Linked DNA regions of Homo sapiens: region 2 is linked to region 1. Evidence: fine-mapped expression QTL. A gene starts in region 1. The other region holds a variant in brackets. All regions are shown on one strand. Distances are between the middles of the regions.

Region 1 (2,901 bases):
GCAGGGCTGTAGCTTTCACCTGTACTTCCTCCTGTTTGGTGTCATCATCACAATCACGATGGTGATAAAATGTCTTCTTTCCTCTAGGCAGGTGGTAAAGGTACTATTTGGTGCACAGGTTGGAGAGTGCTGTGATAAGAACCATCAGAACAAGGGCAGGAATGTGACCTCCCAGGTGATCCTGGGAGGATCCAGTGGAGCGTTTCAGAATTCTGTGTCAAAAAAGAAGGCTGCGTGTTGACTGGGGTGGGGCTGTGCCTGTGTTTGGGGCCGCCCATGGGTGTAGCAAACCCTTTTTTTTTTTTTGTATTTGTCCTGCCTCCTCTCCTTCAGGGTCTGCTCCTTCCTCCTCGCGGCTCTGGGGGCTGCATCTCGGAATCCTGCCGGCCACTCCTCCGCTGCAGGGGTGGACATGGGAACCAAGTGGGGCCTTTGGGATGTCTTCAGCCCTCCCACAGCCACTGGCCAGCCTGCCTGCTGTCTTCCTGCCCCCCTCGCTCACTCCTCCTTCTCCTGGGCTGAACCACACCCAAAAGCTTGATCCAGGACTGGGCTAGGTGACCGGTGCAATCCTTAGATGCCTCTCTTGGTTCCCACTGCCCTGCTGGTCTTGAGGCAGGTTGAGGGGGGAGTCACAGGCCATCCCTGCAAGGAAAAGCAGAGAGGGCAATTTGGGAAGGTGACAGAGGACCCTGTGGGACGTCGAGTCACAGCCTTGCTGGGCACAGTGACTGGCGTGCATAGTGAGCTGCTTTCCCAAGCACTGCCACCCCTGGCTCTCAGATATGCTGCTGAAAGGGGTGACGGGCAGTGGGGGGCTTGGGACTCCGCCGAGGTGTCCTAGCTCCCATCCCTATCCCCAGGCCCAGGCCCAGGCCCCTCCAGCATGAAAGGCTAGGGACCGCACTGCCATGGGGTTTGCCAGGCCCCTGTCTCTTGGGAAGCCACCCCTCCCAGGGAAAAGCAGGGCTGAGGGCTGTTCAGGCTCTGCCACCACCTGCTCTGTGACTTCGGGCAGGCCACCAATTCTTCTGAAAAACGGGAGTCACTGTGGGCACCATCACGCCCGGGTACAGGACGCCCAGTGGCTCAGCTGCCCCAGCCAGGCTGCCCTGTCCTGGCCTCAGCACACCTCCCACAGCCACTGCAGGCAGCCCTGGACCTTCTCCTGCTGAGGCCTTACTGCCAATCCCTCTGGGAGACCAGACACAACAGGCAGCGGTCTGGGTGACTCCCAGGAACCTGTCCTCCCTAGTGGCTGAGGCAGTAGGCTTGGCAGCAGGGACTCAGTGCCCTAGGAGGCAGGGCTCATCCCACAAGTTGCCATGGTAGCCCCTCCTCCTGCCCCTTACTCATCAGCCAGGCTGTACCGACACGGGCTGCCCAGGCAGGGGGTGGCTCGCTGGACAAAGCTGGCCGTGCAGGCGCTCAGGCGTGCAGGGTAGCCAGTGCCCCGGCCAGGAATGGACAGCCTCCAGGACACAGTGGCCCTGGACCATGGGGGCTGCTGCCCTGCCCTCAGCAGGCTGGTTCCCAGAGGCTTTGGGACTGAGATGTGGACTCTCTTTGCCCTTTCTGGACCCCTGGTAAGGAGGAGGAGCTGGGGGGCAGGTAGGGAGTGGAGGAAGCTGAGAGGCTGAGGGTGTCTGCCTTGCAGGCAGGATCCAGAAATGTGCTCACATTTTCCCCAGAAACTGCCCATGTTGACTGCCAGGTCCAGAGTCTGGGGACAGCAGGATGGCTCCTGAAAGCTGTCTCTGGACAATCCCCAGTGGCAGTGGGGCCTGACTTTGCTCAGCAGCAGGCAGCCCCCACACAGAAGGGGTGGGTGTGCCTCAGCTGGAAACCCACAAAAGCCTGAGTTGGAAGATGGCTCCAGGACAAATGGGACCCAGAGATGCATGAAGCCTGCAGCACCTTCGCAGGGGGAAGAAGGGGCCGGCTACCCATTTCATTTCCAAAGGGGAAATTGTTTTAAATACATTTATTTTTTCTGATCATGAAGAGGAATAGGCTGGGCGTGCTGCCTCACGCCTGTTATCTCAGCACTTTGGGAGGCCGAGCAGGGAGGATCACCTGAGGTCAGGAGTTGGAGACCAGCCCGGCCAACATGGAGAACCCCCCGACTCTACTAAAAATACAAAAATTAACCAGGCATGGTGGCGGGCGCCTGTAATTCCAGCTACTTGGGAGAGAGAGGCAGAGAATCGCTTGAACCCGGGACGGGTAGGTTGCAGTGAGCCGAGATCGCGCCACTGCACTCCAGCCTGGGCAACAAGGGCGAAACTCCGTCTCAAAAAAAAAAAAAAAAACAAAAAAAACAAAACCAAAAAGGAGTAATGGAATTGCACTTCCTGTAAAACTTTTAGAAAAAAATGAAAGATATAAAGAAGAAAGAAATTTAACTCAAATCCTAGTACTTGGAAATAGCCATTACTAAGATTTTGGTGTATTTAATTCCCCTCCTTTTTTGGGGGTGTGCGGCCTGACCAAATTATTGTTATAATAGGAACTGCAATAGCAGTATCAGACACTTGGGTCAAGCTCAGGGCGCCAGGCACTGCGCTGCGCCAGGCACTGACCCTTCTGGGTAGGGACGTGGAGGCCAGGCGTGACTGCAGCTGCAGAACGCAGAATGGGAGCTGGGCTAGGTCATCCGACCTCCAGCCCTGGCTTCCCCAGGCGTAGGTGACCTCTCGGGGCACTGGTGCGGGGCCCTCAAAGCTGGAGAGGCCTGTCTTGCAGGGCTCGGCTGTGTGGGCACCTGTGGCCCCGAGTCTGACCTGGCCGCTGTCCTCCAGTTCCTGTTCCAGGTGCTGACTTTTATGATCTACATCGTGAGCACTGTGTTCTGCGGGCACCTGGGCAAGGTGGAGCTGGCATCGGTGACCCTCGCGGTGG
Region 2 (2,901 bases), 130 kb after region 1:
AGCACAGTTTCCATCCTATCCCATGCCAACTCACCCCTGGCTCCCAGCTTTTCCACCCATGTTTCTTTGACCCAATTCTAACAGCTATTTATTTATCCTTCTTTTAGGGAAGTATTTGTGTAAACTGGTTCAAATTCTTCGTGGAACAAGGTGGACTATAAATAAATGTTCCTTTATTTAAAAAAAAAAAACACATTTTTATTAGTCCTTTTATACTATGAACATTTTTCCAAAGGTAAAAAATTTTGTTTTCACAGTTATCTTAAAAATGAGTCTATTATCTTCCTAGAAGATCTCACTGCAACCTCCGCCTCCCGGTTTCAAGAGATCTCCTGCCTCAGCCTCCCAAGTAGTTGGGATTACAGGCACCCACCACCATGCCTGGCTAATTTTTGTGTTTTTAGTAGAGACGGGGTTTCGCCATGTTGGTCAGGTTAGTCTTGAACTCCTGACTTCAGGTGATCCGCCCGCCTCAGCCTCCCAAAGTGCTGGGATTACAGGTGTGAGCCACCACGCCATGCCTAACCACAGGAATTTCTGTAGCCCGTTCCTGATAAGGGGCTCTGCGCTCTTCCGCCTTTGGCCAAGGGCAGTGGTAGGTCAGCTAAGTTGTCAAGACAATTTTGGCCAACATGGTAAAACCCCGTCTCTACTAAAAATACAAAAATTAGCCAGACACGGTGGTGGGCGCCTGTAATCCCAGCTACTCAGGAGGTTGAGGTGGGAGAATTGCTTGAATCTGGGAGGCGGAGGTTGCAGTGAGCTGAGATCTCACCACTGCACTCCAGCCTAGGCAATAGAGCAAGACTTCATCTCAGGAAAAAACAAAAACAAAAAAAACACAAAAAAACAAAACAGCAGAGTCAGCTTGACTAGTGCTGTCCTCTGGGGCCACCTGCTCAAGGGCATTTTGTCCTTTGTTCCTCCCAGTCTGGTCTCCCATACCCTAAAATCGCCCTCCCTTACCACCACCCCTCCTTCCCTGCTGGCCTCCTTCAAGCCAAGCTTCTTGAAGGTGTTCTTTGCACTCGGGCCTGGCCTGCACTCCCGACTCAGCCCCTATTGATGCCTTGTTTATTCCTGCCCAGCCCACTGGGCCTGGCCTCTTCCCGGCCTCCTATGACAAAATCCTCAAGTGAGCGCTTGGCCGTCCTTAATCCACTTGGCCATCCCTGCTTTCTAGAGCACTGCCTTGGCCTCCATGACCTCCCGCCCCCCGAAGTTCTTGCCACCCTGCTAGCTGCCCTTCTCAGCCTACAGTGTGTGCTTTTCTTCCACTGCACCCTCCCCGGGTATCCCTGGCCCTCAGAGTCCCCCACAACTTCACCTTCTACCATGGCACATGTTCTCCTGCAGCATCTGTCTGCCTCCCATGTTGAAAACTCTCTTTTAAGCTTCAGTTTCTGCTACCTCTACCCTCCATGTTAACAGTCCCAGCTCCTGGGAGCAGGGACACATTGTCCCAGGACACGTGTAAAATGCCACAGGG[G/T]CCAGCTAGCTCACTGGTTGTCCCTGGCTCAGAAGCTCCCCCAATGCTGTCAGCTGTTGGTGGGGAGGGCGGGAGCAGATGATGGGAAACCGGTCTGCCTGGGCGCCGGGCAGGCGCCCCTGGGAGGGGTTGCTTGTGGCGCAGGCCCCCAGCCTCGGCCTGCCTGGCATATGCTGTTAGCAGTGCATTTGTTTTCTCAAGTCCTTTGGAGGCAAGAACCTCAAGCGCGTGGGGATCATACTTCAGAGAGGGGTCCTCATCCTTATGCTGTGCTGCTTTCCCTGCTGGGCCGACTTGGTCAACACCGAGCGCATCCTCCTGCTCTTAAAACAAGACCCGAAGTCTCCAGGTGAGGTCCCCTGTTTCCCAATCCTAGGTTAAGAGTAGGTGGCTATCTGGTCATTGTACCTGTGTGGACATTTTCGGCCAATTACATGGTCTTGATCCCTTTCAAAAATGAAAGCTGTGACTGTGGGTCACAGAGTCGAGCCCACAGCCCCAGGGATGACAGCAGAGGCGGGGAGAGGAGAAGAGTGGACACCCAGATGCTGAGGTCCTCTTGAACAAGGTGGCTGACTGGCCATTAGATGTCATCCACATGGAGGAGTGACCGATGGCCCAGAAGTGAGCCCAGGGAGCACCCTGGGGGCAGTGATGGTTGGCAAGCAGTAATCAGAAAAGGTGGACCCCAATCCTGGGCCCTGCGGGGACACAGCAGGAAATTTCCCTGCCAGTCTTAGATCATCATCCTGTTAAGGTAGAGGCCAAGCTCGTCTTTCCCGGTGGGGACACTGGAGCAGCCATGTATACGAATCTCCTCTGCCTTCATGCCTCTTCCTAGAGTCCCAGTCTAAACTTTCAAAGGAAGCAAAAATGTCCCTTAATCCAATACGTTCACCAAATAACAGACCTGTAAATAAAATGTGTGACTGATTCCACCTGGCAAGGTCTTGGCTCCCATGTAGCTGAATGAGAAGCTCCGGTGGCCCTCCGTGTTCTTAGGGTGTGTACCCATCTCACGGGGACACAGGGGACATTTTCTGAGACTAGGGAAAGCCGCCTACCATCACCAGCAGAAGTGTTTTCCACTTTCTCTGAAAGCCTGGATGAAATGCAGGAAGAAACAACTTTCCACATCACTAACAAAAGCCAGGGAACAGACGTCCCAGGAGGTGTGATTTCAATCCATGGGAGAGGCTTTTCCACAAGGGTGAAAGGGTGGGAGCTGAATGTACTGTGTAATCCAATTAATGGCAAACAACCTAAATTACCTAAAAGTCTCCTGATTTAATTTCATAATAGAAAAAAGTGCAGTTATTTCAGTTTTACACTTTTCTAAGTATTGACACGAGCTCCTTCCAAATCTAATCAGGTAATGGTAAGCCACAGGTCAGTCCCAGACCTGTAAAGGA

Alleles and levels. Positions count from the first base shown, and alleles are read on the strand shown. Sizes are in standard deviations (SD) of each study's normalised expression.
For the expression in thyroid of the gene that starts at base 1,435 in region 1, allele T in region 2 goes with a higher level than allele G (large effect, 0.89 SD a copy in GTEx).

What was found. PIP is the estimated chance that this variant, and not a neighbour inherited with it, causes the effect.
Region 2: its variant is the best candidate, but not a certain one, in a credible set for the expression of SLC47A2 in thyroid (GTEx, PIP 0.75).

The regions. Positions count from the first base shown.
Region 1 is chr17:19,715,118-19,718,018 of GRCh38, reverse strand. It overlaps SLC47A2 (solute carrier family 47 member 2), which reads left to right and starts at 1,435. Exons shown (of 17, transcript NM_001099646.3): 1 at 1,435-1,586; 2 at 2,802-2,901. The coding sequence starts at 1,464. It overlaps LOC124903948 (a long non-coding RNA gene), which reads right to left. Exons shown (of 2, transcript XR_007065659.1): 1 at 2,784-2,901; 2 at 1-645. RefSeq lists enhancers at 260-1,107, 1,108-1,957.
Region 2 is chr17:19,581,054-19,583,954 of GRCh38, reverse strand. It overlaps the pseudogene SLC47A1P1. Among named protein-coding and RNA genes, the nearest start is that of SNORA59B, 25 kb to the right of the region's middle. The variant G/T (reference allele first, on the strand shown) is at 1,490.